Regions from separate parts of the Homo sapiens genome. Here all the other regions are linked to region 1. Evidence: fine-mapped expression QTL. A gene starts in region 1. Each other region holds a variant in brackets. All regions are shown on one strand. Distances are from middle to middle.

Region 1 (9,891 bases):
AGACAGGGGCAGTGAGACAAGCAATAGTAGTGGGAGCCAGAGAAATCAAGGAGGGAAACCAGCCAAAGCTGCTTGAAAAGTGGAAGTTAGCCTTCCGGATGGTTAGGGAGACATGGACCAGGTAGGGTAACTGTCTCCACCAAGAGACTCATCTGTAGAAAAGTGAACGCACTGGAAAGGGGAGAAATCTAATTAAAGAGTCTTCAGAGCGATGACAGCCAGAGTGTGCGAGCACGGAAGGGCGAGGTATCCGTTCCTGGATCCTCCCCTAAGGCACCTGACTCGGCCTGCCTAGGTCAGCACAGCCCCCTCACGAGTCTCGGCCTTGGGCCTTCTCTGACGTCGCTGGGAGGAATATAGGAGGAATCTGTGAGATCCTTGGAAGGTGGAAACCAACTGCGGGAAAGGACAAATCTCCCAGACCCAACCCCTCACCTCCGCCCAAACTTCACCTCCGACTTATCGTCCCCAATTCAGGCTCCCAGGCTTGCCCCAGTTCCTCCAGCCCCTTCCGCACCTCTCTCTTCGACGCTCTCCCGCGTCTCCCGGGCCCTCTACTCACCCTGCGACCAGGATGATAACGCGAAGCGGGTCCCCAGCCACAGTGATCAAGAAAAGCGCGAAGGCCGGGCCGAACGCGACGAAAGTGCAGCCGAAAAACACCGCAGCCCCCATGGCTGGTCAGGTGGGAAGGGGGGTGGGGGCCTGACCAGGACAGGCAAATGGGAGGGGCGCGCCAGCTGGGGAGTCCGCGTGGGGTGGCAACGCGACCCCACGAGGGGCGCGGTGCAATGTCACCCCCAGACCCCGGGGAAGGGGAAGGGGGGGAACCGAAACCCCAAATGAAGGTCCGCGCCACTTCCTCTACGGAAGCCGAAGAGGGGACAAATCCCGGCCGCAGCCCCACGGCCACCTCCCATCTAATCCCCACCCCCGGAAGGCCAATGGAGAATCAGCGCGGGCGGAGCTGCTCGACCTGCTGGGAGTTGTAGTCGCCTTCCGAGGCCTTGACTTCGTCCTGGGAGTGGCTCGAGCCGGTTAATGGGGGTGGGCCGGGAATGGACCAGTCGAGACACCAATTCCAGGGTTCGGTTGCGCTTCCGTCGCTGTTTCCTTTCGTCACTTTGTGGGGAAAAGTGGTAGCAATCATACCTCTTCTTGAAGGGCTGCAGAGGGGGTAGATCCTGTTTGAATCTAAGGGACAAATACAAAGAGAGCACAGGATGGGGCGCAGGGAGATAGGGACGGGTATTGTTCTTACTTGAATGAGAGGAAATGGGCTAGAGCTGCTGCCTAAGAGATGAAGATTACATTAAAAAGTAGGAGCTCTTCGGACAGACTAGTATAATAAACATGGAATACAGTATATCGCTAATGAAGCCTTCATCTGTAATGACAAGAGAATCGGAGAGAAGCAAAAGGAGCCTGGAGAGAAATGTTAGGAAGGCATTTTGAAAGAGTCCGGGAGTTTAAAAGCAATTAGAGCGATGGGGTTGAAGGAAAACGACACCCCCACCCCACCCCCGCCATAAATTCCTTTTATGTCATACTTCCTCTATTTATTTTCTGAAAAATGAACCTCAGTGGTGCGTTTTCCTGAGGCTGAGAGGGGTTGTATATTAGAGTGAATGAAAGTTAAAGTAGGCTGAGCGCGGTGGCTCACCCCTGTAATCCCAGCACTTTGGGAGGCCAGGAGTTTGAGACCAGCCTGGCCAACATGGCGAAACCCCATCTCTACTAAAAATACAAAAATTAGCCAGATGTGGTGGCGCACGCCTGTAATCCCAGCTACCTGGGAGGCTGAGGGGCAAATATAGCTTGAACCCAAGAGGCAGAGGTGGCAGTGAGCTGAGATTGCGCTACTGCACTACAGCCTGGGCAACGGAGTGAGGTTCTGTCTCAAAAAAGAAAAAGAAAGTTAAGTAGGAGAGGAGGGTATTGTAATCTCATTTGGATGGGGAGAGGTTAGTCCTTAGGGAAGATGTTAGGCAAAGGAATCTGAGGATGGAAAAGAGGAAAGAAATCTGGAATATTGTTTTTGAAAGCATAATCAAAGTACCAAAAAAAACCCCACAGAAATTGTTTAAAGATAACCAAACTTCCTTTCCTTCCTGGAAGTGATTTATTATTTAATCCATATGTGCACACTCACATACATGTTTTACATGTCTTCCAGGATATTCTGGAAAGGAGCTGAGGAATAGATTGTATAGATTTACACGGAGGCTGGTCACAGTGGCTCATGCCTGTAATCCCAGCACTTTCGGAGGCCAAGGCGGCTGGATCACTTGAGGTCAGGAGTTTGAGACTAGCCTGGCCAGTGTGGTAAAACCCCATCTCTACTAAAAATACAAAAAATTAGCCAGGCATGGTGGTGCGCACCTGTAGTCCCAGCTACTCAGGAGGCTGAGCCACGAGAATAGCTTGAATCTGAGAGGTGGAGGTTACAGTGAGCTGAGATCCCACCACTGCACTCCAACCTGGGCGACAGAGCAAGACTCTGTCTCTGAAAAAAAAGAAAGAAAATATTTACATGGAAAGTCACCAGGCAAATTATTCCCTAATGAGACTAAGAGGGTAGCTGGGCGCAGTGGCTCACGCCTGTAATCCCAGCACTTTGGGAGGTCGAGGCAGGCAGATCACGAGGTCAGGAGATCGAGACCATCCTGGCTAACACGATGAAACCCCGTTTCTACTAAAAATACAAAAAATTAGCCAGGCGTGGTGGCGGGCGCCTGTAGTCCCAGCTACTCAGGAGGCTGAGGCAGGAGAATGGCGTGAACCCAGGAGGCGGAGCTTGCAGTGAGCCGAGATCGTGCCACTGCACTCCAGCCTGGGCAACAGAGTGAGACTCCGTCTCAAAAAAAAAAAAAAAAAAATTAAGAGGGTAGCGTTATCATGACCTGTGTTCAAGACTCCAGTATGTCCTGCTTCTGAGCCCAGCAGGCAGAGTAAGGTGGATAGGAATGAGACAATTCTCATGTCTTTTTTTTTTGAGATGGAGTCTCACTCTGTTGCCTAGACTGGAGTACAGTGGTGCTATCTCGGCTCACTGCAACCTCTGCCTCCCAGGTTCAAGTGATTCTCCTGCTTCAGCCTCCCTAGTAGCTGGGATTACTGGCGCCTGCCACCAAGCCCAGCTAATTTTTGTATTTTTAGTAGAGACAAGGTTTCACCATGTTGGCCAGGCTGATCTCCTGACCTCAGGTGATCTGTCCGCCTAAGCCTCCCAAAGTACTGGGATTACAGGCGTGAGCCACTGTGGCCAGCTTCATCTCTCCATTGAGCTGTTACCACAGCATCTTCTGACCATTGACAGGAGGCTGTAAACCTATCTTGTTCATGGGTGTTTCCACAGACACTTGCATAGTGCCTGACTCATAGTAGATGTTGAGCAGATACTTATTAACTTCCCTTAAGAACAAAGCAAAACTGTCTTTTCTTATTCCCTTGCCTATAAGCTCTCAATTGCCTATCACACTAGGCCTAGCACACTGTGCCTAGCACGTATGTTGCTAAGGGTTTCTGAATTGAATGAACATGGGAAACATAAAAGCAGAGGAAAGGATAAAAACTCTACACCTGTAGGACGGAATGAAGGGAACATACCAAGTGACTGAATGTGGGAGGGAAGGTGTGGCACCTGTAGCAGGGAAAGAGACTATCTGCTTTCTCCCTTCTTCCAACCTGCATCCTGGAAGTTGAGAAAGAGATGAGGTGAGGCCGGGCACGGTGGCTCATGCCTGTAATCCCAGTACTTTGGGAGGCCAAGACAGGTGGATCATCTGAGGTCAGGAGTTCGAGACCAGCCTGGGCCAACATGGTGAAACCCCGTCTCTACTAAAAATACAAAACTTAGCTGGGCATGGTGGCACGCGCCTGTAGTCCCAGCTACCAGGGAGGCTGAGGCAGGAGAATCACTGGAACCCGGGAGGCAGAGGTTGCAGTGAGCCGAGATCGCGCCACTGCACTCCAACCTGGGTGACAAAGCAAGATTCTGTCTCAAAAAAAAAACAAAGAGGTGAGGTGAGGTCAGTGTTACCAGAAAGGAAATAACTGACCATGGCTGAGAGACTTTTAGCTGAAGCCATGCAGCAGGTGCTTTAAGTCAGACAATGATGGGTAAATATTGTTCCTATTCTCTATAGCTCCAGACAGACAGAAGAAAGGGATTCTTTTCAGTCTAGAAAAATGCTCACCCCTTCCTCAGAACATTTCCACTGTGACGAAAAGAGACTGATGAAGCCTCAGAGAGAAAGGCAACTCTGGGTGGTGATGGTAAGTCAGAGACAGTGAGAGGGAGGGTGAACTTTTTATGAGGCCTTGGAGGAAGGAAGGAAAGCCGGGAGAGGGGAAACTTCTTGGTAGGCTTATTTTTTATTTTTATTTTGGTAGTGACAGTGGGAGTCTTGAATGGATCTAATCTAGGGCAGGGGGAGCTTAAGAAACATGTTTGCATCAAAACCCCCTTTTGCCTCTCAATCTGGGCAGCTCTGGCTGGGGACCGGCAGTAACCGGAGATCTAGTCAGTCAGCCAGTAGGCGGGGAGTTCTGCCCCCTGGGAGGAGAAGAGTTGCTGCAGCTCCTTCCCTGCTTTGGAGGAGGAGGGGAGGCGGGGTAAGTTTGGTGGGAAACTCTGTAATTTCCTTTTTTACTTTCACAGCAATAGTGCAGAATCCAGAATGGATGTCCTCTTTGTAGCCATCTTTGCTGTGCCACTTATCCTGGGTAAGTCCACTCCTCTCTCTGAGCTTTTGTGCCAGGTCTTCTACCATAAATGGGGTGGGAGAAAAAAAATGAGGAGTGGGTGAGAGGTACATTTCAGTGGGGAGCGATAGAGTTTTCTCATCGTGCTGGGGTCCGGTGTTGAGGGCAGAATGGAGATCTGGAAGGCAGAGCCAGGAAAGGGGGAAAAAAGCAGAGTCCTGTCAAACAAGGAGGATGGAGCTCCAGACACAAGGAGGCCCTAGCAACACTGAGCTCAGTTCTCCATCACCACGGAAGTTGAACAAGATGACAGGGGCTAAAGTAAGGGTGAAGGAGGGATTATTGGAAGGTGTCACAGTCTGAAACTAGTAGTTAGGGTATCTCCTTTCCCAGAGAATTGGAGAAAAAAACCTGCTATTAGTAAAGACACAGAAGTGGGGTGACCTTTAGGGTAGTGGAAAACTGGCTGTCTTCAGGGACAGGGTCCCAAGAGTAGCTTGGCTCCTTCCCTCCTTTGTTCCCCAGTCTACCAGGTGTGTCTCATTGTTTCCTTTTCCTCTAGATTCTTGTGTCATTAGCTTGGAGTTGAAGGGAAAGCATTCAAGGAGCTCAGGGAAGTGTTTAGCAGGAGGCCTGGAGTTCTTGATCCAGTCATATCAAAGCCACATATTTTTAGTTCTGAAAGGGAAGAAAAACTAACAGAGATGGGTCATTTTAGTCCAGCTGACTCATTTTAAGAAAGCGGATGTTAAGTGGATTGTTCAGGGTTATTCTGTTAGCAGTGAAGGTGGAACTAAAGCTCAAATCCAAAGCCTAAGGGTGTATGTTAGTTATTTGTAAGAGATACTGATAAGAAAAGATGTCTCACAAATACAGTAAGATCTGGAGCATACTAAATAGAAGACTTGGCGTTTTTAATTCCTGGTCTCTACTTTTCCTACCTTTTTTAGGTCTGGTTCTCCCTTTGGGTTTATAGTATGTGAAGGGGACTGTTTTCTGTTTTAGGAGTTCCTGGATTGAAAGGGCACGGAGTAACAGGCCTCATTACAGATATGGATCCCAGAAGACTGAGAGGGGTGTAGAGGTGCACAGGCAAGAAAGGAGTATGACTATTGGAGGAGAGAGAGAGAGAGAGAAAAGAAAGAAAGAGCAAGAAAGCTGGGAGCGCTGAGGTCATCTCCAGGTGTCCTTTTGTTAGTAAGGTGTTCCAGATGTCCCTTGACCTCTAGTCCTTGTCCCCATAGGACAAGAATATGAGGATGAAGAAAGACTGGGAGAGGATGAATATTATCAGGTGGTCTATTATTATACAGTCACCCCCAGTTATGGTGAGTACATGAAAGGCTCTTGCCCTTAGCCAACTGGAGAGAGGCTTCAGGATATTTAGTTCTGAGACTTTGCTCTTCACTTTGAAGCAGAGCAATGGGGTCAGAGAAAAATCTGGCTATGAACAAAACCTATCAAGACTCATGATGGGGCCGGGCGTGGTGGCTCACACCTGTAATCCCAGCACTTTGGGAGGCTGAGGCGGGCGGATCACGAGGTCAGGAGATCGAGACCATCCTGGCTAACACAGTGAAACCCTGTCTCTACTAAAAATACAAAAAATTAGCCGGGTGTGGTGGCGGGTGCCTGCAGTCCCAGCTACTTGGGAGGCTGAGGCAGGAGAATGGCATGAACCCGGGAGGCAGAGGTTGCAGTGAGCTGAGATCGTGCCACTGCACTCCAGCCTGGGTGACAGAGCAAGACTCCATCTCAAAAAAAAAAAATGAAAAAAGATTTATGATGGGCTGGGCGCAGTGACTCATGCCTGTAATCCCAGCACTTTGGGAGGCTGAGGTGGGTGGATCACCTGCGGTCAGGAGTTTGAGACCAGCCTGGCCAACATGGTGAAACCCTGTCTCTACTAAAAATACAAAAATTAGCTGGGCATGGTGGCACCTGCCTGTAGTCCCAGTTATTCAGGAGGCTGAGGCAGGAGAATCGCTTGAACCTGGGAGGCAGAGGTTGTGGTGAACTGAGATCACACCACTGCACTCCAGCCTGGGCGACAGAATGAGACTACGTCACAAAAAAAAAAAAAGACTCATGATGATGTTATTTTTCCAGATAGTGATTTTTAGATGGGAGGATTGCTTGAGCCCAGGAGTTCAAGACCACCCTGGACATCATAGCAAGACCTTGTCTCTATAGAAAAAAAAATTTTTTTTTTTTGAGACCAAATCTCATGCTGTCACCCAGGCTAGAGTGCAGTGGCACAATCTCAGCTCACTGCAACCTCTGCCTCTCGGCTTCCAGCTATTCTCTTGCCTCAGCCTCCTAGGTAGCTGGGACTACAGGCGTGTGCTACCATGCCCGGCTAATTTTGTATCTTTAGTAGAGACAAGGTGTCACCATGTTGGCCACGCTGGTCTTGAACTCCTGATCTCGTGATCTGCCCACCTCAGCCTCCCAAAGTGCTGGGATTACAGGCTTGAGCCATCGTGCCCGGCCAAATTTTTTTTTTTTTAATTAGCTGGGCATGGTGGCACATGGCTGTAGTCCCAGCTACTCAGGAGGCTGAGGCAGGAGGATCACTTGAGCTCAGGAGCTGGAGGTGGCAGTGAGCTATGATTGAACCAACTGTACTCCAGCCTGTTAACACAGTGAGACCCTGACTCTAAAAAAAGAAGAACTTGAAAATTTTTCAAATTTGTAAATTATTTTAGATACCTACATTGAAAATATAAATGCATACACATTCACAGTCATTTTTAACATTAGTTAAATAAAATTGGATTATACCAATAAATGTTACAACTTAAGTTAAACTATTCTGAGTAATTTCTTCCCTTTTCATTTCCAGATCTAGAGTTACATTTTTCTTTAATTATTACTGATTTTCTTTCTCCTCTGCAGATGACTTTAGTGCAGATTTCACCATTGATTACTCCATATTTGAGTCAGAGGACAGGCTGGTGAGTGAACTCTACATCTAAAAGGGTTAGGATAAGTAACAATTAAAAAGAAACTGGCCGGGCGCAGTGGCTCATGCCTATAATCCCAGCACTTTGGGAGGCCAAGGCGAGTGGATCATTTGAGGTCAAGAGTTTGAGACCAGCCTGGCCAAAATGGTGAAACCCCGTCTCTACTAAAAATACAAAAACATTAGTTGGACATGGTAGCATATGCCTATAATCCCAGCTACTCAGAAGGCTGAGGTAGGAGAATCACTTGAATCCGGGAGATGGAGGACGCAGTGAGCCAAGATCGTTCCACTGCACTCCAGCCTGGGTGACAGATCCAGACTTCATCTACAAAAAAAAAAGAAAAAAGAAAAGAAAAGAAACTGGGCAATGTTGAAATGTATCTGATTAACAAGAATAAAAATGAGTTTGATGAGGAGAAACTAAGTAGTAGGCCCAAAACAGATTTGTTAACCTATCTGGGGAGGAGAAAAAAGCCAGAACTTTATAAATTGTCCTCAGTAAGTTTGCTAAGACACTGAGGAGGGGCATCAAGGGACTTTTGAATGAGATGGGTACAAATCTATGCAAGCATAGGGTAGGGGGGAATCCCTGAGCTTAAGTCTTTGGGCTGGGTGGAGGTGGTGAAGGGGAGAACTTTAAGTAGAGAATCTATGAAGATGTTGGATGGAAAAACTGATAACTCTGTGTTTCCCAAATCCTACTGAGGGTAGAACAGGTTGGATAAGGACATAACAGAAGCAATAGAGACTACCATTAGTCTTGAAACAGCACGTGCAGACCATCCGAAGCCTGTAACTGTGAAACCAGTAACAACGGAACCTGTGAGTTGATTGGGGATTGGGGGCTGGGGGGAGACAGGACATCCCTAGTGACGTGGAATACATAGAGGGCTGGAATACCAGGCTTTGGTGGATGGGAGAACCAAATAATTAGTACTTCATTGCAGGTATTCATCTCAACTTGGCCATGTTTCACTAAGATTTAATACTAACCCTGTTTACAGAACACTGGGAAGATATGGTACAGTTAAATTTCAGTTCAGTAGTATTCAATAGGTATGTAATCTATGCCTAAGGCTGCTAAGGTAACTGATGCTGATAAAAAAGAAATCTATGTTACTGTCCTCAAGGATTTATAAAATTCAAGTTTACGAAACACTTAGAACAAAATGAAAAGGTATGTTATGATGTTAAATTATATATAAATTTGAAAGCAGAAGATACTGGCAGTGCTTTAGCCAATGTAAGAAGAGAGATTAGTACAGGCTAGAGTTGTCTGAAAAGCTTTCAAGAGGCATTTGTGCTTGAGATACACCCTGAAGAATAGATGAGCTTTTGATTGGTGGGTAGTTATGGAAGGACAGAAGCAATTAGGAGGAAGAATAGTTATTCCAAGAGTGAAAGAGGCCAGGTATGGCGGCTTATGCCTGTAATCCCAGCACTTTGGGGAGGCCAAGGTGGTCGGATCACTTGAGGTCAGCAGTTCAAGGCTAGTTCAATGGCCAACATGGTGGAAACCCCATCTCTACTAAAAATACAAAAGTTAGCCAGGCGTGGTGGTGCGTGCCTGTAATCCCAGCTACTTGGGAAGCTGAGGCATGAGAATCACTTGAACCCGGGAGGCAGAGGTTGCAGTGAGCCGAGATCACGCCACTCTACTCCAGCCTGGGCGACAGAGTGAGACTCTATACTAAAAAAAAAAAAAAAAAAAAAAAAAGAGTGAAAGAGCTGCACAGGAGGGGGGAATAGAACAAGCATAATATGTTTAGCAAATAGGGTATGATTGAAGGAGAGGGTATATGGAAGGGAACAGTGGGAATTAAGAAAAATATAAAATTTACAAGGCTCCTAATACTTGCTTAGTAATTTCACATGTGGCAACATAGGGGCAAATTTCAGAGAGTCTCAGGTGTCAGGCTGAAGTCTGGACTCATAATCAACAAGGAGCCTAGTAAGTTCTTCATTATGGTAAAAACACGATGAAAAGTGATATTTTAGAAAAACCGGCCAGGTGTGGTGGCTCACGACTGTAATCTCAGCACTTTGGGAGGCTGAAGTGAGCTGATCACCTGAAGTCGGGAGTTCGAGACCAGCCTGACCAACATGGAGAAACCCTGTCTATAGTAAAAATACAGAATTAGCTGGGTGTGGTGGCACATGCCTGTAATCCCAGCTACCTGGGAGGCTGAGGCAGGAGAATCGCTTGAACCTGGGAG
Region 2 (10,948 bases), 120 kb after region 1:
GTATATACGTGTATATACACATGTATATATATACATATATACATGTATACACACATATATATGTATATGCATATATACACATACACTATATATATATACCCGCGCACACACACACACACACACACACACATATATACACCCTGCATCCTGTTGCCCTTGTTGTTAACATCTTACATTAGTATGTTACGTTTATTAAAACCAATGAATCAATATTGATATGTAATTTTTTTTTTTTTTTTGAGATGGAGTCTCACTCTGTCGCCCAGGCTGGAGTGCAGTGGCGCGATCTTGCAACCTCCGCCTCCTGGGTTCAAGCGATTCTTGTGCCTCAGCCTCCTGAGTAGCTGGGACTACAGGCACACACCACCACACCCAGCTAATTTTTGTATTTTTAGTAGAGGCGGGGTTTCACCATATTGGCCAGGCTGGTCTTGAACCCCTGACCTCGTGATCTGCCTGCCTCAGCCCCTCAAAGTGCTAGGATACAGGCGTGAGCCACTGCACTTGGCCTAATATGTAATTATTAAGAGTCCATATTTTATGAATTGCCTTAGTTTTTACCTACTGTTGTTTTCTCCATAACTCCACATTTAATTATTATATCTCTTTAGGCTCCTCTAGATTTTGACAGTTTTGTTTTGTTTTGTTTTGTTTTTCCCTGCAGACAGAGTCTTGCTCTGTTGCCCAGGCTGGTGTGCAGTGGTACAATCACAGCTCACTGCAGCCTCGACCTCTCGGGTCTAAGCAATCCTCCCACCTCAGACTCCCGAGTAGCTGGGGCTATAGGTGTGCACCACAGGTATGCACCACTACACCTGGCTAATTTTTGTAATTTCTGTAGCAACAGGGTTTCACCATGTTGCCCAGGCTTGTCTCAAACTCCTGAGCTCAAGCGATCTGCCTGCCTCGGCCTCGCAAAGTGCTGGGATTACAGGTGTGAGCCACTGTGTCCACAGTTTTCTTTTAAGCTTCCCTAGATTTGGTCAGATATTTTGTAGAATGTCCCTCAATGTGGGTTTGTCTGTTTTTTTGTGGTTGTTTTTTGTTTTAATGATTAGCTGGGGTTATTGTTTCTTTGGAGGAAGACCACAGAGGTAAAGTTCCATTTTCATCACATGATATCAAGAGTGTCCATCCTATCAACATGTTTTACCGCTAATGATACTAACCTTGATCACCTGGCTGAGATAGTTTTTTTCAGATTTCTTCTTTTTTGAAGCCTCTTACACATTGTACTCTTTGGGAAGAAGTCACTGCACAGCCCACAATTTAGGGGAGTTATGCCGTCTACCTCCTTGAGGAGGCAGCATCTATGTAAATTTTTCAGAATTCTGTGTAGACATTAACAAGCACACATTTTAATGCATTACTGGGTGTACTAAAAAAGTAAGGGAGGTTTCCAAGGGTCTGTTCATTCACAGAAGTAAAGAGTCAGCTGAAACAGGAGCAGTGAGTAAGCTTGTGAGCAAACAAGACTGGCAACGTTTTCCTGAAGGCAAACGCTCACATCAGCACTAATGGGAGACTAAGCCTTGGGCCCCCAGAAACGTTGAAAAGCCCCTTGAGAAAGATGCTGAATTGAACCTGGGTCACTACTGCCCTTGACTCTCTGCCAGAGTAAATGCAAATACATTTTTAGAAAAAGCTTTCTCTGATTAGGCTTTCAGAATTCCCATAGATAAAATTCAACAAAATATAAGCTTACAATAAAAGAATTGCCAAACACAAAGAAATAAACAACTGTGGGTGAGATTTAATAGAAACAAACCCCAAAGACTTAAACTATTGAAATAATAAGATATGAAATATAAAACAACTGACCAGGCACAGTGGCTCACGCCTGTAATCCCAGCACTTTGGGAGGCCGAGGCAGGCAGATCACCTGAGGTCAGGAGTTCCAAGACCAGCCTGGCCAACATGGTGAAACTCCATCTCTACTAAAAATATTAAAAAATTAGCCAGGCGTGGTGGCACATGCCTGTAGTCTCCCTGCTGCTCGGGAGGCAGAGGCAGGAGAATCGCTTGAATCTGGGAGGCAGAAGTTGCAGTGAGCCGAGATCACGCCGTTACACTCCAGCCTGGGCGACAAGTGAGACTCCGTCTCAAAAAATAAATAAATAAATAAATAAAAAGAACCATGTATAAAATATTTAAATTAATAAAGGAATCTAAAATATATCAAGGAACAACTCTTAGACAGTTATGCAAATTTGAAAAAGAACCAAAGAGAAATGTTAGAAATAAAAGTATAACTGTTGAAATTGAAAACTTAGTGGATGATTTGAACAACAGATAAGACCATTGGCAAAGGGAGAATTCATGAACTGAAAGATCTGAAGTAATTTCCCAGAATGTAATGTTAAGAAATAAGTTAAAAGGAAGAGCATAATGAGTCTAACATGTGTGATTGAAGTCTTATAAGGAGAGAATTAAGAACAGGCAATATTTTAAAGGAATAATGGAGAAAATGGAATAATTGATGAAATATGTGAATATATATAGGGACCATATGCATATGAAGGAAGGGGGTTAAATAAAAAGAAATCTACTTGTACATACTTTATAGATAACTGAAGAATATCAAAGTCAAAGAGAAGCTCTTAAAAACAGTAGGAGAGGATGGGTATTCTATCCTCAGTATACAGTATTCTTACAGTATGAAACTATCACTGCACAGATCATGAAATGCAAATTGATAATTATAGATTATTAATTACTTACAAAGGAATGACAGATTGATAACTATGGAAGCAAGAGGACATTGGAATAAAATATTCAAAGTGCAGAGAGAAAACAGCCATCAAATTAGAATTGTCTACCTAGCAAAACTAAGTTTTAAGAACAAGGGCAAAATAAAGACATTTCCATAAAGACAAAAGCTAGAAACCAACAGATCTTCACCTAATGACCTTTATTTTATTTAATTCATTTATTTATTTTTGTAGAGATAAGGGTCTCATGTGTTGCCCAGGCTTATCTCAAACTCCTGGGCTCAAGTGATCCTCCTGCTTTGGCCTCACAAAGTGCTGGGATTATAGGTGTGAGCCACCACACTGGCCCATTAATGACCTTTAAAAGGACATATACTTCAGGGAAAGGAAAATAATCCCAGAAAAAAATCTAAGAGATAAAATGCAGTGCTAAGCAAGTAAATTGGTAACCATAAGAGTAAATCTGAATGAACATTTCCTGTATGAGATATTTAATTAGTATAGTTTAAAAAGCCAGGACAGGCCGGGATCAGTGGCTGACGCCTGTAATCCCAACACTCTGGGAGGCTGAGGCGGGCGGATCACCTAAGGTCAGGAGTTTGAGACCAGCCTGGCCAACATGGCGAAACACTGTCTTTACTAAAAGTACAAAAATTAGCCGGGCCTGGTGGTGGGCACCTGTAATCCCAGCTACTTGGGAGGCCGAGGCAGGAGAATCACTTGAACCTGGGAGGCAGAGGTTGCAGTGAGCCGAGATCGCACCACTGCACTCCAGCCTGGGCAACAGAATGAGACTCCATCTCAAAAAATAAAAATAAAAAAAAGGACAAAACTATCTCTGTTCGGTATTGTAGTTCAAGAAGAGAGTGGACTGGGCATGGTGGTGTGCTGTTAAGAAATGTTTGTGTGTTGCTCAAGGCCCATCTCTACTAAAAATTGAAAAAAATTAGCCAGGCATGGTGGCAGGCACCTGTAGTCCCAGCTACTCGGGAGAATCGCTTGAACCGGGAGGCGGAGGTTGCAGTGAGCCAGGATCGCACCACTACACTCCAGCCTGGGCGACAGAGCAAGATTCCATCTCAAAAAAAAAAAGAAAAGAGAGAAGAATAGAGTGATTTAGGGGTGGGTGCAGTGGCTCACGCCTGTAATCCTAGCACTTGGGAGGCCAAGATGGGTGGATCACCTGAGGTCAGGAGTTCCAGCCAGTCTGGCCAACATGGTGAAACCCCATCTCTACGAAAAATACAAAAATTAGCTGGGCGTGGTGGCACATGCCTGTAATCCCAGTTATCGGGTAGGCTGAGGCAGAAGAATTGCTGGAACCCAGGAGGCGAAGGCTGCAGTGAGCTGAGATCGCGCCACTGCACTACAGCCTAGGTGACACAGTGAGACTCCAAAAAAAATTGGGTAAAAATAGAATGTATAACTTTCAGCCACTAGAAGGGGGAGAACAATTTAAAAAATAAATTTCTTGGCCATGGCTCATCCCTGTAGTCTCAGCGCTTTGGCAGGACTATCGCGTGAAGCCAGGAGTTCAAGACTAGCCTGGGCAACATACATAGCAAGACTTCGTCTCTACTAAATAAAAAATAGCTGGGCCTGGTAACAAGTACCCGTAGTCCCAGTTACTGGAAAGGCTGAGGAGGGAGGATTGCTTGATCCCAGGAGTTGCAGATTTCTGTGAGCTATGATTTCGCCATGCACTCCAGCCTGGGCAGTAGAGCAAGACCCTGTCTAGAAAAAAAACAAAGAAAAGAAAACTTCCCCAAAAGGTACAGAGGTATGAAGGGAATAAAGAAGTATGAAGCATAGAAAAAGGCAGGGCAAATAAAAGCACAACATAAAATGATAGAAACAAATTCAAATATATCAATCACAGTTAAACATAAAAGAATAATTTTAGCAGTTAAAAGATAGGGATGATCAGTTCAGATTTTTTTTAAAAATGTGGCTATATAGAGAGACATATCTAAAATAGAAAAGTTAAAAGGCAGTTACTAACCAAAAACAATAAAAAACATACCGCTATAGTAGCTGCATGAATAAAGACGTTAAGACCCAAACCAAAACATTATTAAAGAGGGCTGGGTGCGGTGGCTCACACATGTAAATCACAGCATTTCAGGAGGGTAAGGCAGGCAGATCGCTTGAGCCCAGAAGTTCAAGACCAGCCTGGGCAACATGGCAAAATCGCATCTACAGAAACATTAGCTGGGCATGGTACATGCCTACAGTCCCAGCTATTTAGGAGGCTGAGGTGGATGGATCGATTGAGTCCAGGAGGTTGAGGCTGCAGTGAAGTGTGATCTGCCACTGCACTCTAGCCTGGGCAACAGAGAGACCCTGTCT[C/CA]AAAAAAAAAAAAAAAAAAAAAAACCAATAAAAAAAACATTGGGTGAAAGACTGTTGAGGAGCAGTATATAGTATTCCTACAGTGTGAATGTATCACCCCATAGATTATGAGTTACAAATTGATAATTATAGATTATTACTTTATTGTAGAGGGAAAAACATGCATTTATAATGCAGAGAGAATTTGGCATCAATAGTAGTGGGATGGCATGAAAATTATATGTCTCTTACGGAAGGTAGTGGGTGGTATACAATGCCAACAAAGTTGTATTCTTGCCAAAAATGTTTAACCTGAACCTACTCTTGAGAAAATGAATGAATCCTGAAATGTGGGATGTTCTGCAGGACATCTGGCTTGGATCATCAAAGTCATGAAGAATAGGGAGAGGTAAAGGGACTCTCCTACATTGAGAGATAATGAAAATCAAACATAAGAACTTTGGTTCTTGGAGTGAAAAAAACAAAGGTAAAAATAACAGTATATAAAAAAAAACCCCAACTATAAACAGTCTGGTGATTGTTGGGAAAATTTGATGATGCGCTTTATATCGGCTGGTGTTGCTGAATTAATGTTTTTTGTTGTTGTTGTTGTTTTCTTCTCTTTTCTTTTGAGACGGAATTTCACTCTTAAAAGTTGCCCAGGCTGGAGTGCAATGGCGCGATCTCGGCTCACTGCAACCTCCGCCTCCTGGGTTCAAGCGATTCTCCTGACTCAGCCTCCTTAGTAGCTGGCATTACAGGCATGCACCACCACGCCTGGCTAATTTTGTATTTTTGGTAGAGACAGGGTTTCTTCATGTTAGTCAGGCTGTTCTTGAACTCCCTACCTCGGGTGATCCGCCCGCCTCAGCCTCCCAAAGTGCTGGGTTTACAGGCGTGAACCACTGCACCAGGCCTGAATTAAGTTTTTTTAAGATATAATGCTGCTATGATTGTATGAGAGAATGTTCCTTCTGAAATATTTAGGGATAAATTATATTGCTCTCTACAATCTACTTTAAGATGGTTTGGCAAAAGAGAACTAAATGTTGTATATATAGAGAGATAGAGCTGATGCGGCAAGATATTAACGATTGCTAAATGTAGGTAAAATATAGGAATGTTTACTGAACTTTCAACCTTTTTGTGGAGTTTTTTTTTGTTTTGTTTTTGTTTTGAGACGAAGTCTTGCTCTGTCGCCCAGGCTGGAGTGCAGTGGCATGATCTCGGCTCACTGCAACCTCAGCCTCCCGGGTTCAAGCAATTCTCCACCTCAGCCTCCAGAGTAGGTGGTGCACACCACCATGCCTGGCTAATTTTTGTATTTTTTGTAGAGACCAGGTATCACCATGTTGCCCAGGCTGGTCTCAAACTCCAGAGCTCAAGCAATCTGTTTCCTCGGCCTCCCAAAGTGTTGGGATTACAGGCGTGAGCCACAGCGCCTGGCCACAAAAATTGCTTCTGCATAGGATAAAGGCAAATACAAAAGGCTAACAAAACAAAGGTTTTATCAGAAAATAAAGAACATCTTTATGACCATAGTATAGGGAAATAATTCTTTTTTTTAAATTAAATTTTTTTATTTCCATAGGTTATTGGGAAACAGGTGGTATTTGGTTATATGAGTAAGTTCTTTAATGGTGATTTGTGAGATTTTGGTGCACTCATCCCCTGAGCAGTATACACTGAACCCAATTTGTGGTCTTTTATCCCTCACCCCCTTCCCACTCTTTCCTCCTGAGTCCCCAAAGTCCACTGTGTCTTCCTTATGCCTTTGCATCCTCATAGCTTAGCTCCCACATATGAGTGAGAACATATGATGTTTGGTTTTCCATTCCTGAATTACTTCACTTAGAATAGTAGCCTCCAATCTCATCCAGGTCGCTGCTAATGCAATTAATTCATTCCTTTTCATGGCTGAGTAGTATTCCATTGTGTGTGTGTGTGTGTGTGTGTGTGTGTGTGTGTATACACATCACAGCACCACAGTTTCTTTACCCATTGACTGATGGGCATTTGGGTTGATTTCACGTTTTTGCAATTGCAAATTGTGCTGCTACAGACATGTGTATGCAAATATCTTTTTTTTTTTTTTTTTGAGATGGAGTCTTGCTCTGTCACCTAAGCTGGAGTGCAGTGGCACCATCTTGGCTCATTGCAACCACTGCCTCCGTGTTCAAGCAGTTCTGCTGCTCAGCCTCCCAAGTAGCTGGGATTACAGGCACATGCCACCACGCCTGGCTAGTTTTTGTATTTTTAGTAGAGACGGGGTTTCACCATGTTGGCCAGGCTGGTCTCGAACTCCTGACCTCGTGATCTGCCTGCCTCCGCCTCCCAAAGTGCTGGGATTACAGGCGTGAGCCACCGCGTCCGGCCGCAAGTATCTTTTTCATATAATGACTTCTTTTCCTCTGGGTAGATACTCAGTATTGGGATTGCTGGATCACATGGTAGTTCTACTTTTAGTTCCTTAAGGAATCTCCACACTGTTTTCCATAGTGGTTGTACTAGTTTACATTCCCACCAGCAGTGTAGAAGTGTTCCCTTTTCACTGCATCCATGCCAACTTCTATTAATTTTTGATTTTTTGATCATGGCCACTCTTGGAGGAGTCAGGTGGTATCACATTGTGGTTTTGATTTGCATTTCCCTGATCATTAGGGATGGTGAGCATTTTTTCATATGTTTGTTTGACATTTGTATGCCTTCTTTTGAAAATCGTGTATTCATGTCCTTAACTCACTTTTTGATGGGATCGTCTGTGTGTTTTTTTTTTTTTTTGGTAATTTGTTTGAGTTTATTATAGATTCTGGAAATTAATCATTTGTTAGACGTATAGATTGTGAAGATTTTCTCCCACTCTGTGGATTGTCTGTTTACTCTTGCTGACTGTTCCTTTTGCTCTTCAAAAGCTCTTTAGTTTAATTAAGTTTCAGCTTTATATCTTTGTTTTTATTACATTTGCCTTTGGGTTCTTGGTCATGAAATAGTTGCCTAAGCCAATGTCTAGAAGGGTTTTTCCATTGTTATCTTCTAGAATTTTATAGTTTGAGGTTCTAGATTTATGTCCTTGATCCATGTTGAGTTAATTTATTTTGTTTAAGGTAAGAGATGAGGATCCAGTTTCATTCTTCTACATGTGGCTTGCCAATTATCCCAGCATCATTTGTTGAATAGGGTGTCCTTTCCCCACTTTATCTTGTTTGCTTTGTCAAAGATCAGTTGGTACCACCATCATCCTTTACAGAATTAGAAAAGACAACCCTAAAATTCATATGGAACCAAAAAAGACCCCACATAGCCAATGCAACACTAAGCAAAACAAATCTGGAGGCATCACATTACCTGATTTCAAACTATACTCTAAGGTCATAGTCACCAAAACAGCATGGTACTGGCATAAAAATAGGCACATAGACCAATGGAACGGAATAATGTAGGGAAAGAATTCTCAAACGAGACACACTATGCTAGCCATAATAAAAATAATGATTACCATAATAAATATATAAATTCAGCATTATTAAAATTAAAATTTTCTTTCTTTATTTTTATTTTTGAGACAGAGTCTTGCTCTGTCGCCCAGGCTGGAGTGCAGTGGCATGATCTCAGTTCACTGCAGCCTCTGCCTCCCAGATTCAAGCAATTCTCCTACCTCAGTCTCCTGAGTAGCTGGGATCACAGGCACCTGCCACCACCTTCAGTTAATTTTTGTATTTATAGTAGAGAGGGGGTTTCACCATGTTGGTTAGGCTGATCTCAAACTCCTGACCTCACATGATCCACCTGCCTCGGCCTCTGGAAGTGCTGGGATTACAGGCGTCAGCCACTGCACCCGGCCACAACAGCAAGTCTTATTGATTCTGTTGGTGTTTTGCTTTTTTTGGGTGGTGGGGAGTCAGGTTTATTGTGTTATGATTTACATACACCAAAGTTTACCCTTTAAATGTACAGTTCTATAAATTTTGATGAATTTATAATTGTGTAGCCACCACAATTAACATATAGAACTTATATAAGTTCTGTTACTCCCCAAATTCTTCCCCATTTTTATTGAACCCCTTTCGTCTGTGACCCACTATTTGACCTTATAGTTTTGACTCTTCCAGAATGTCATGTAAATGGAGTGATGTAACCTTTTGAGTCTGACTTCTTTCATTTAGCATGATGCAATTGTAGTAAAACATACATAGCAAAATTTTGTTTCTTTTTGTTGTTAAATAGTATTCCATTTTAAGGATGTTTCACAGTTGTTGAAGGACATTTGGGTTGTTTTGTTCTTGGTAATTATGAATAAAGCCACCATAAACATTTCTTATTTATTTATTTATTGAGACAGAGTCTTGCTCTGTTGCCCAGGCTGGAGTGTAGTGGCGCCATCTCCGCTCACTGCAGCTTCTGCTTCCCGGATTCAAGCGATTCTCCTGCCTCAGTCAGCCTCCGGAGTAGCTGGAATTACAGGCATCCACCACCATGCCCAGCTAATTTGTTTCTGTTTTTAGTAGAGATGGGCCTTGAGCAACACACAAACATTTCTTAACAGCATCTTTAATTGTATTTATTTATTTATTTTGAGGCAGGGTCTCACTGTGTTGCCCAGGCTGGAGTGCAGTGGCATGATCTTGTCTCACAGCAACCTCTGTCTCCCAGGTTCAAGCCATTCTCCTGCCTCAGCACCCCACCCCACCCCCACCCCGCAGTAGCTGGAATTACAGGCACCTGCCACTATGCCTGGCTAATTTTTGTGTTTTTATATTTATTTTATTTTATTTTATTTTTTTTGAGACGGAGTCTCGCTCTATTGCCCAGGCTGGAGTGCAGTGGCGCGATCTCGGCTCACTGCAAGCTCTGCCTCCCAGGTTCACGCCATTCTCCTGCCTCAGCCTCCCAAGTAGCTGGGACTACAGGTGCCTGCCACCACGCCTGGCTAATTTTTTGTATTTTTAGTAGAGACGGGGTTTCACTGTGTTAGCCAGGATGGTCTCGATCTCCTGACCTCGTGATCTGCCCACCTTGGCCTCCCAAAGTGCTGGGATTACAGGCGTGAGCCACCGTGCCTGGCCTATTTTATTTTATTTTATTTCCTTCCTTCTTTCCTTCCTTCCTTTCCCTTTCCCTTTCCCTTTTTTCTGACAGAGTCTCACTCTGTCACCCAGACTGCAGTGCAGTGGTGTGAACTCGGCTCACTACAATCTCCGCCTCCTGGGTTTAAGCCATTCTCCTCCTTCAGCCTCCGGAGTAGCTGGGATTACAGGTGCGCACCACCATGCCTAGCTAATTTTTGTATTTTTGTAGCAACCGGGTTTCACCATGTCGGCCAGGCTGGTCTCGAACTCCTGACCTCAAGTGATCCACCCTCCTCAGCCTCCCAAAGTGCTGTGGTTACAGGCATGAGACACCACACCCGGCCTTAACAGCATTTTTAAAAAAGCAATAATTTCTTAATTTTGATGAAGTCCAGTTTATTTTAAAAATGTTAACAGATGATATTTTCGTTACATATAAGAAATCCTTTAATTCAAAGTCATAAAGAATTTCTTCTATATTTTCTTACAGAAGTTTTATTTATTTTAATTAGTTTATTTTTTGAGAAAGGGTCCCACTTGGTTACCCAGGCTGGAGTGCAGTGGTGCCATATAGCTCACTGCAGCCTCAACCACCTAGGCTCTAGGGATCCTCCCACCCCATCCTTTGGAGTAGCTGGGATCACAGACGCAAGCCTCCTCACCTCGGTTATCTTTTAATTTTTCTTTATAGAGAAAGGTCTTCCTATGTTGCCTAGGCTGGTCTCAAACTCCTGGGCTCAAGCAATCCTCCCACCTTGGCCTCCCAAAGTGCTGGGATTACAGGCATAGAAGTTTTATAGTTAGGTTTTACCTTAGGTCTATAATGCATTTTGAATTAATTTT
Region 3 (10,948 bases), 350 kb after region 1:
GTCCTACAGGAAACGTCTCCTTTGTCCATTGCAGGAGCACCAGTGTGACAGATAAAACCATTTGAGGGGGGCCGGGCATGGTGGCTCACGCCTGTAATCCCAACACTTTGGGAGGCCAAGGTGGGTGGATCACCTGAGATCAGGAGTTCGAGACCAGCCTGGCCAACATGATGAAACCCCATCTCTACTAAAAATACAAAAAATTAGCTGGGTGTGATGGCTACCTGGGAGGCTGCGGCAGGAGAATCGCTTGAATCTAGGAGGTGGAGGTTGCAGTGAGCCGAGATTGCGCCATTGCTCTCCAGCCTGGGAAACAAGAGCAACACTCTGTCTAAAACAAACAAACAAAAAACTATTTGAGGGGGATATACCAGAGATGCCTGCTTGTTCCCCTGGGCCCTGAGTCCCTCTCAGACTTTCAGACCAAGTATTTTTAGTTTACTTCTGACAAAAATAAATTCAAGCCAGAATCCAAATTTGCTGTGAAATCAGCTGGTTCTAGAGAATAGGGTATTTTCCTATACCCTTCTTGGTATAGGCAAAACTGCCCCACAGAGGCTGTGCAATCAGGCAAAGGCATGCTCCTCTTGGCCTTAGTTTCACCATTTGTAAAACGAGTACACTGAACTCAATGATCTCGAATGTCCCTTTAGTTCCAAAACTCTGTACTTTTGGACATTTAAGAAATATCCTGGGCTGTACAGTTTGGGTCTGTAAAAAAGGAAATGACTCAAATGCAATAGAGGAAGCCTAAGGATGACTCAGACTTCCCTAATCATAAACGACACTTCAGACATGGACCTTAACGTCAAACCAGGATTCATGATCACTAAATGACTTTCCTTTTGTACGTGTGAGCAGGTGGCGTTCACCAGGGGTGAGACTTTATTGACAGTAAGTTGCCTCTGCCAAAAAACGCCCTCATATGTCTGCTGATGTTTGAATTTCTCCTATGCAGAGTTTTGTCTCCAGTTAAAAATGTAAATACTGTTGTTTCTTGTTGGAGCTCAGAGGAAAAAAAGATAACTACTCTAGGATATGTATCAATTTGATGCTACTTTATTTTATTTATTGAGACAGGGTCTTGCTCTGTTGCCCAGGCTGGAGTGCAGCAGTGCAATCACAGCTCACTGCAGCCTCAACCTCCTGTGCCCAATCGATGCTCCCACCTCAGCCTGCCATTGCTGGAACTACAGGCACATGACAACACGCCTGGCTATTTTTTTTTAATTTTTCAGACAGGGTCTCCTTACATTGCCCAGGCTGGTCTCAAACTCCTGTACTCAAGTGATCCTCCCCCTTCAGCCTCCCAAAGTGATGGCATTACAGATGTGAGCCACCTCACCCCAGCAAGTTGATTTTTAACAAAAGATAACAGCAAAACCCCAGATAAATTAGCAAACTACCTTCACAGCTCGATGTGAGAACTCTCTTAGTTTTATTTATTTATACACAGAGTCTCATTCTGTTGCCCAGGCTGGAGTGCAGTGGTGCAAACACAGCTCACTGCAGCCTTCACCTTCTGGACTCAGGCTATCCTCCAGCCTCAGCCTCCCACGTAGCTGGGGCCACAGGTGCATGCCATCATGCATGGCTAATTTTTTAATTTTTTTGTAGAGATGGGGGTCTCATTTTGTTGCCCAGGGTGGTCTCGAACTCCTGGGCACAAGCCATCTTCCCCTCCCAAAGTGCTGGGATTACAGGCATGAGCCACCACCTGGCTCCAATCTAAAATTTTATATTCTTGCTACAATGTTTTGAACTTCCAGGTTAATCATTTCTGCTTCTAAATCATCTGCTCTTTGACCTTATAAAGAGTTCTCTTAAAAATAAATAAATAATAGAGAAAGAAACAAAGAATTCTCTTGACCAGAGGTTTTTTTTTTTTTTTTTTTTTTTTTTTTTTTTTTTGAGACAGGGTTTTGCTCGTTGCCCAGGCTGGAGTGCAATGGCGCAATCTTGCCTCACTGCAACCTCTGCCTCCCGGGTTCAAGAGATTCTCCTGCCTCAGCCTCCCTGGTAGCTGGGATTACAGGCGCACGCCACCACACCCAGCTAATTTTTTGTATTTTTAGTAGAGACGGAGTTTCACTATGTTGGCCAGGCTGGTCTCAAACTCCTGACCTGACCTCATGATCCACCCACCCCAGCCTCCCAAAGTGCTAGGATTACAGGTGTGGGCCACCGCGCCTGGCTTGACCAGTTTATCACAACTTCCTTAGCCTATTTTCTTATCTAGCTATAATCAGAGAGATTCTTTAATCTTTCACCAGCACTTTCATCCCCTTGCTTCCTTCTTAGTATACTTTATCTGTCTACAAATCCTGACTCAGGATCTAAACAATAATGTCGTCCCTGCTCTTGTACCCAGGGAGCTAGGTGCTTCTAGAGAAAATAGCACAAAGATATGGATTGGTACCATTACATGTTCATGGTACCAATCTGTTAGAACCTCAACATTGCTTGCTTCCTAACCACCCCTCCCCACCTTTTTTAAGAGATGGGGTTTGGTTATGTTGCCCAGGCTGGAGTGCAGTGGCTAGTCACAAGCACGATAATTGTGCACTGCAGTCTCGTCCTGGGCTCGAGATCTTCCTACCTCACCGTCCCAAGTAGCTGGGACTATAGGCGTGTGCCACCATGCCTGGCTTTTATTTTTTGTACAGATGAGTTCTTACCATGTTGTCCAGGCTGGTCTGGAACTCCTGGACTCAAGCAATCCTCCTGCCTCAGCCTCCCAAACTGTCGGGATTATAGGCGCCTGAGTCATTGGGCTCCGCCCCTCCTCTCTTCTATGTCCTTTTATGGCTATACTTTTTACACTCCCACCTCTCTAACATCCTACTTTACAAGTCTGACTAAAGCTGTCAGACAACGACTCCTATAAATTACTTAGCCCCAGTCAAAAACAATCAGCTGGGAGTTTACTGTTATATTTTCGCCTTGAGTCTCCAGCAGGATGAGGCATATATAGTCCTACTTGAGACCACTTTCTCACTCAGTTGGCTTCCCAAGTAGACTAACCCCACCACCTAGTAGAGTGGCTGGCACACGGTAAGTGCTCAGCAAACGTCTGCAGAAGTAGACCATGTAACTAAACCACATCCACCTGTGCTCATTTCACCTCCTTTCTCTTCAGAACCCTGCTTTTTGGTTATTATCATTCTCTACTGAGCTCCAGCTTTTACTTATTCCTTTCACTCTTTCAATAAATATGCCTGAATTATTCCCATCCTAAAACAACCACAAAACCTCTCCATATTACTTAGTTCTATAAGCCAGATTTCACCTCTACAAATCCACTGAAATTGGTCTCAAAAAGGTTACTAACTGCCAAATCAAATGGATACTCCAGTCCTTTTTCTTTTGTATTTGGTGTTTGAGTTTTTTCTTGAGATGGAGTCTTGCTCTTGTCGCCCAGGCTGGAGTGCAATGGTGCGATCTTGGCTCACTGCAACCTCCACCTCCTGGGTTAAGTGATTCTCCTGTCTCAGCCTCCTGAGTAGCTGGGATTACAGGCACCCGCCACCACGCCCGGTTAATTTTTACTATTTTTGGTAGAGATGGGGTTTCACCATGTTGGCCAGGCTGGTCTTGAATTCCCAACCTCAGGTGATCCCCCCCATCTCGGTCTCCCAAAGTGCTGGGATTACAGGCGTGAGCCACCATGCCCAGCCCTGTCTACTCTTCTTTATACCCATTGTCATTACCTTCCTTGGTTCCTAATCATCTCTCACCTGAAATATTGTAGCAACATAATAAAGTGTCTTACAATTCAACTAGCCCATGATAATGGTTTACTGAGTGGAGTATGGAATTTCCACTTAGGTGTTACTTCACCTGAGTTACTTCAAACTTCACCATTGTTACTTCATTTATTATTTTTTGAGACGGAGTCTCACTCTGTCGCCCAGGCTGGAGTGCAATGGTGCTAACTCGGCCCACTGCAACCTCCGCCTCCCGGATTCAAGGATTCTCCTGTCTCAGCCTCTTGAGTAACTGGGATTACAGGCACCTGCCACTACACCCAGCTTGGCCTTGCCCCTTGGATGCTTACTACAGTTACTGTGAATTATTCCCAGTTTGCAGAATGTAATAACTCTGAATCACTTTACATAGTTCTTTCTACCCAGAAGACCCCTTTCCCGATCTAACCCCTTTACCTGAATAAATTCTTCTACTTCATCAGATCTCAGCTTAGAAGCTATTTTCTGTGACAGGATTTTCCTGTCCTTCCTCCACCTCCTCAAATTGGGTAGGTTCCCCTATTCTGTGCTTCTAGAGCATTTTGTGTTTGTCCCTGTCTTAGCACCAATCCCTTCTAATTCCTTATCTGTCTGTTTTTATTATATCCCTCTGTATACTGTAAACTCCTTGAGGGCAGGAACCATGTTTTATTTTTTTTTTGGAGACAGAGTTTTGCTCTTGTTGCCCAGGCTGGAGTACAGTGACGCAATCTCGGCTCACTGCAACCTCCGCCTCCCGGGTTCAAGCAATTCTCGTGCCTCAGCCTCCCAAGTAGCTGGAATTGCAGGCATACACCACCACATCTGGCTAATTTTGTATTTTTAGTACAGACAGGGTTTCACCACATTGGTCAGGCTGGTCTCAAACTCCTGACATCAGGCCATCCGCCCGCCTTGGCCTCCCAAAGTGCTGAGATTACAGACGCGAGCCATCACGCCCAGCTGGAACCATGTTTTACGCACTTTTGTAGTCCCTGAAGTAAGGCCTTTACAAGCCTTATCTTGCTTAATCATCACAACCACCCTCATGGTAGGTACCATGTCGTTACTATTATGCAAGTAAGTAAATTGAGGCAGAGAGTTAAAGAAACTTGTTCAGAGTTATAAAAAAAAATCAGGATTTTAAAATTTTATTTTTTTCAAGATGAAGTTTCACTCTTATTGCCCAGGCTAAAGTGCTGTAGCTTGATCTCGGCTCACTGAAACCTCCGCCTCCTGGGTTCAAGCGATTCTCCTGCCTTAGCTTGCGGAGTATCTGGGATTACAGGTACCCGCCACCAGGCCTGGCTAATTTTTGTATTTTTAGTAGAGACGGGGGTTTCACCATGTTGGCCAGGCTGGTCTCGAACTTTTTTTTTTTTTTTTTTGAGACGGAGTCTCGCTGTCGCCCAGGCTGGAGTGCAGTGGCGCGATCTCAGCTCATTGCAAGCTTCGCCTCCTGGGTTCAGGCCATTCTCCTGCCTCAGCCTCCCGAGTAGCTGGGACTACAGGCGCCTGCAACCACGCCCGGCTAATTTTTTGTATCTTTAGTAGAGACGGGGTTTCACCGTGTTAGCCAGGATGGTCTCAATCTCCTGACCTCGTAGTGAGGAGCTGAGACTGTAGTGAGCCATGATTACACCACTGCATTCCAGCATTCCAGCCTGGGGGACAGAGACCCTGTATCAAAAAAAAAAAAAAAAAAAAAAAAGGCCAGGTGCGGTGGCTCATGCCTGTAATCCCAGCACTTTGGGAGGTTGAGGCGGGTGGATCACTCGAGGTCAGGAGTTCAAGACCAGCCTGGCCAACATGGCAAAACCCCGTCTCTACTAAAAATACAAAAATTAGCCGGGCATGGTGGTGCATGGCTATAGTCCCAGCTACTTGGTAGGCTGAGGCACGAGAATCGCTTGAACACAAAAGGTGGAGGTTGCAGTGAGCTGAGATCACACCACTGCACTCCAGCTTGGGCAACAGAGCAAGACCTTGCCTCAAAAACAAAACAAAACAAAACAAAAAACAAAAACAAAAAACCACAGCCAGGCGCGGTGGCTCACATCTGTAATCCTAGCACTTTGGGAGGCTGAGGCAGGTGGATCACCTGAGGTCAGGAGTTCAAGACCAGCCAGGGCAACATGGCGAAACCCCGTCTCTACTAAAAGTACAAAAATTAGCCAGGTGTGGTGGCAGTCACCTGTAATCCCAGCTACTCAGGTGGCTGAGGCAGGAGAATAGCTTGAACCCAGGAGGCAGAGGTTGCAGTGAGTTGAGATCTCACTACTGCACTCCAGCCT[G/C]GGCGACAAGAGTGAGACTCTGTCTTAAAAAGAAAAAAAAACCAACAGGCCAGGAGCAGTGGCTCAAGCCTGCAATCCCAGCACTTTGGGAGGCTGAGGTGGGTGGATCACTTGAGGTGAGGAGTTCAAGACTGGCCTGGCCAACATGGTGATACACCATCTCTACCAAAAATACAAAAATTAGCAGGGCATGGTGGCACATGCCTGTAATCCCAGCTACTCCGTAGGGTGAGGCAGAATCACTTGAACCCAGAGGTGGAGGTTCCAGTGAGCCAAGATCACACCACTACACTCCAGTGACGAAGTGAGACTCTGTCTCAGAAAAAAAAAAAAAAAAAAGCAACTATTATTAATTAATTACTTGTCCCTATTCCTCTGTATAGCTAGACCACCACTGCTGTAAGTTTAACACTGTAATATGATTTCTTCATGTGTAGGTCACCACTACAATGTAATCTCCTTGAAAGAGGCAGCCACATACAATTTACCTTGTATTTTAGCACAATGCCAGGCATATTGTGGACACTTATTAAGTAACTGCACTGTTTAAATACTACCCACCTTTCAAGGCCCAGTTAAATGTCCATTTCCACCACTTATGTTTACCTAATGAGTCCAGTCAGATTTTCTCTTCTCAGAATTCTACTACTTGACTAACCATATGCTATCTTGCATTATATGTAGAAGTGTCTCAATTAGGTTACATGTTCCTCTAGAGCAGAGATGACCTCTTACACTGTTTATCTGGCCAAAAACAGCTTATTTTTCCAACTGCAAAGCGAGTATTCAGCAGTCACTTGGGACTTAAAATATTGCAGCCCAACCACGGGAGGTCCCACTTTATCTTTACTAGTGAAGTCATCTGTCTTTAATAAAATTCAGCTAACAGCTTATCTCCTGACTCTCCTTCCCTTAGCTTAGCTACTGGAACTCTGCTTAGAACTATAAATCTGCCTGTATTTGTGTGCTGCTGTCATATCTCAGGTTCCCCAGGATGGAAGAGATCTTTCTTTTTAATCTCCCTCAAGACCCAGTAGAGGGCATTATACAGACGAGGGCTGCTTGTGTGGGTGCTGTTGGCTCACTGTGGATATATCCTCAATGGCAACTCTCCAAGTTATTTTTCTTTGCCTGTCTTTGATATGCCCAGCCCACACCAGCTTAAAATAAAAGCTGTTGGACAGTAACGGTGACTTCATCCCTGCCACCCTGTATATTAGATGGCTCAGCTTAGTGGCTTGTCAGCACAATCAGGTTGGAGGAGTGGAAGAACCTTTGATTCAACTCTTTGGGATAAAGACTTTAGAATACATCTAGCTAAAATAATGAGCAGGAATAACTATTAGAAGCATTGCAGAATCAGTTTGCTTTGCTTGCCTAGCCCTACAGTATGGGAGTGAAGGAGATGGACTGTCAAGTTTTAAAATGGGATACATCCTGCCAAGTGTGCAGTGGTGAAGAACTAAAAGGAAAAAAAAAAGGCTAAGGAGTAACATGAAATACAGATAGCCCCAAACATTTTTGGCACCCCAGGCTTCTTAAGGCCACAAATTAAAATTGAGGACCAGGGAAGCCAGGAATAGTGGGAAGAAATAATATAAAAGCCTAAGATACTAACTCAAGCTCTTCAGCTAACTAGCTTTTCTACTTTACAAGTAACTTATCTCTATACCTTAATTTCCTCACTTGTATTAAAATGAAATTGCACTAACTGCTGGGTGTAGTGGTTCACACCTGTAATCCCTGCACTTTGGGAGGCTGAGGTGGAAAGACTGCTTGAGGCCAGGAGTTCAGGAGCAGCCTACACAACAAAACGAGATCCTCTCTACAAAAGAAAGGATGAAAATATATTCTCAGCCAGGCGCAGTGGCTTATGCCTGTAATCCCAGCACTTTGGGAGGCTGAGATGGGAAGAGTGCTTAAGCCTGTGTTCTGAGACTCACCTGGACAACATGGTGAATCCTCATCTCTACAAAAAATAATTAGCCAGGTGTGGTGGTGTGTGCTTGTAGTCCCAGCTACTTGGGAGGCTGAGATGGGAAGATTACTTGAGCCCAGGAGGTTGAGGCTACAGTGAGTGTTTGCACCCTGCACTCCATTCTGGGTGACTGAGCAAGATCCTGCCTCTAAAAAAAAAAAAAAAAAGAAAGAAAGAAAGAAATTGAATGATCCCACATTCAGCCTCATAGACCTCACCTCATTCCCCAGCTGGCAAACACAAACCAGGGATAACATACTCAGGAGGAAATCATGGGATGGCTCACTAACCCCACCACAATAAACACCATTAACTTGTGTCTCTAGTTTAAATTTGTACTTGTTTTATTTTATTCATTTATTTTTTTTAGATGGAGTCTCGCTCTGTCGCCCAGGCTGGAGTGCAATGGCACAATCTCGGCTCACTGCAAACTCTGCCTCCTGGGTTCAAGCGATTCTCCTACCTCAGCCTCCCAAGTAAGTGGGATTATAGGCATGTGCCGCCACGCCCGGCTAATTTTTGTATTTTTAGTAGAGATGGGGTTTCACCATGTTGGCTAGGCTGGTCTCAAACTCCTGACCTCAAGTGATCCACCCACCTTGGCCTCCCAAAGTGCTGGAATTATAGGCGTGAGCCACCGTACACCCGCTGGAGTTTTTTCTCCTTTGGTAACCTTTCTTTTGTACGTTACATTCACAGGCAGCTTTTAACTTCTTTCAGTAGCAGGTTTCCAGCAATGCAGATTGGCACATCATGAGGAAAGAAATCACTCTGCCTCCTGCTGGCCACCAGCAGAAAGACTTGAGTTTCTTTTGGCTTATTACAAAGAAATAATATATTTCTTTTGGTTTGTCACATTTCTCCCTCACAAACATGGGAACTTGAAAAGGAATGGAAGACAGAGGGAAAAGGAGACTGGGCCTCCTTTTCTGCTAAACCTGGACTAGGCTTAGGTGTCAAGAAACCATTTAGATCAAATATCTTAAATGCCTCATTTTGTGAGCCACAAACTGAGGTTGATGCACCTTCTACATTGGTTACAGAAACAAAGGGATGGGCAAGGTTTATGCCAACATTCCTGCTCCCTTTCCTAAGTGATGGTATTGGGGAACTCAGCCGCATCTCACATTAACAATGTCTTCAGTATTGTTTTCTTCCCCCTCCCAAACCCCAATAAAACACACCAACTGCTTCAGAATATTTCTGGGTTGGGTTTTTTCATGGGTTTTTGTTTTGTTTATTTCGAATACTGAAAAAGTCCTTTGGGCTCTGTGGGGTTCCCCACGCTCACGGCTCCTTTCTCCCACACTCACTGCCCTTCTTCCCACAGCAAATCTATTTCAAGGACAGTACTTTTTAAAATGATTAATGTTGAGTTCTCAACTAGCTCTGCAGAACTAGAGGAGCTGTTTGCATCTGTCTGTGCGGATGGAGTTTCTTTTATCTGACACCAGGTCTCCAACCACACTGAAACAAGGCATTTATCTACAGAGCTCAACTAGAACCCCTTTTCATTAGGCTACTCCACTTCCTTCCCCTCATACCTACCCCACATCAGCCACGTGGTTAAGAAGGATAGTCAGGAATGTTTTTACCAACTCCAAGCCCTAATTCATACTCCTCCATATCTCCCACCCCACCCTTTCAACCCCACCCCCACCCCCAGAATTTCATTGATATTTCTCCCAACTGTTATTTGGAAAAAAGGTAAAACAAAAAAGGTTCAAGGTCTTGGTGCTCAGCCCAAGGGGCTCCATGTGCTGGGACACCAACAGGAAAGGGCTTCTGCCTCTCCAGCCCACACCCGAGCCACCTCCTGACCCCTGGCTGCAAAAGCAGGAAGGGGCAGGAGCCAGCACAGGACCCGGGTGGGGCAGGGAGGGGAAGCGTCTCAGGATCTGGCAGAGCCCCGGGCAGCATCATTCAACTTGGCCACTGCGGACGAACACAGAAGAAAAAAAAAAAAAACAACACTGTCAAGTAATAGGGGAAAAAAACCCTGAACTCCAACCCAGTCTCTACCCCATGATTCCTCCACATTTAACAACCATTAGGCTACCTGGCATGTCTCAATCCTATCCATAAGGGAGTTGCAAAAAAAATCAAAAAATAGAATTTCAGTCTTTTCCTATCCACGAAACAACGTTATCTGCCTTTCTGGGATATCCATGGATAACAAACATAGAAAAATAATTCTTTAGATAAGATCAAAATAACTGGAGGTTTCCAGGTGGGTAAGCTGCCTGGCTCAGAGCAGGCTGTTTCAGAGGCATGGCCACAGCTACTTGCAAAGACTGAGGTAGCACAGAGATGAGGTGGTGACTGTGTGGAGGCCAGAACCAGACCACACACATGCTGTTCTGAATGGATTTAATAATCTAGGTTTAATCAAAGCAATTTGCATTTGGATTTTGGAATGACCACTCCTTGCTAAGGAAGCTATGTACTTCATGCTGTGGAAACTGGCAAATACAGAATGTAGCTTGTTTGTTTTCTTAGCCTTGAAGATGACCAGGTAGAGAGACAGAGTGAGACCAACAGTTTTTCTGATTTCCCTGCTCCTCCTATTCCTTCCTAAAAATCAGACTCATTGTGACCAGTAGTCTTGAGGACTCAAGCTGAATGATAGAGAAGGCAGCTCAGACAGAAAAGAAAAAAAGTACAGAATTTGAGAAGATCGGAGATGAAGAAAACGTACAAAATTATATATATATTTATATATATAATAACATGACATATCTATGTACAACATGGCTGGGACAGTTGAAGAAACTATACAATGGTGTTCAGCATTTTCCCCTTCCCAGATGGACTTTAAGGATGACAGCATGAGGAAATGGAGCAAGAAACACAAAAATTATATACAATTACAAGTGACAGTCAAGGAGTTTGGGGACCAGGGAGTCCAGGGATCCTGCTCTCTCCATTCCTTCCTCACCAACTTTCTCCTA

Direction of the effects. Alleles are on the strand shown, and positions count from the first base shown. SD is a standard deviation of normalised expression in the study named. Not every link is listed here.
With allele C in place of G in region 3, the expression in prefrontal cortex of the gene that starts at base 4,655 in region 1 is lower (large effect, 1.5 SD a copy in ROSMAP).

Evidence for each region.
Region 2: its variant is fine-mapped to the expression of C1orf54 in whole blood (INTERVAL, PIP above 0.99).
Region 3: its variant is fine-mapped to the expression of C1orf54 in prefrontal cortex (ROSMAP, PIP 0.95).

Annotation. Positions count from the first base shown.
Region 1 is chr1:150,268,136-150,278,026 of GRCh38, forward strand. C1orf54 (chromosome 1 open reading frame 54) reads left to right here and starts at 4,655. Exons shown (of 6, transcript NM_024579.4): 1 at 4,655-4,728; 2 at 5,952-6,035; 3 at 7,606-7,664; 4 at 8,387-8,497. The coding sequence starts at 4,683. APH1A (aph-1A gamma-secretase subunit) reads right to left here and starts at 881. Exons shown (of 7, transcript NM_001077628.3): 1 at 563-881. The coding sequence starts at 675. LOC124904414 reads right to left here. Exons shown (of 2, transcript XM_047438213.1): 2 at 921-1,194. The coding sequence ends at 921. RefSeq lists a silencer at 663-1,120 and enhancers at 981-1,592, 1,174-1,223, 1,284-1,333.
Region 2 is chr1:150,388,394-150,399,341 of GRCh38, forward strand. All of the region lies in intron 1 of RPRD2 (regulation of nuclear pre-mRNA domain containing 2), which reads left to right. Among named protein-coding and RNA genes, the nearest start is that of RPRD2, 30 kb to the left of the region's middle. The variant C/CA (reference allele first, on the strand shown) is at 5,061.
Region 3 is chr1:150,612,928-150,623,875 of GRCh38, forward strand. It overlaps ENSA (endosulfine alpha), which reads right to left. Exons shown (of 4, transcript NM_004436.4): 4 at 9,198-9,932. The coding sequence ends at 9,917. Among named protein-coding and RNA genes, the nearest start is that of ENSA, 11 kb to the right of the region's middle. RefSeq lists a silencer at 9,726-10,020. The variant G/C (reference allele first, on the strand shown) is at 6,020.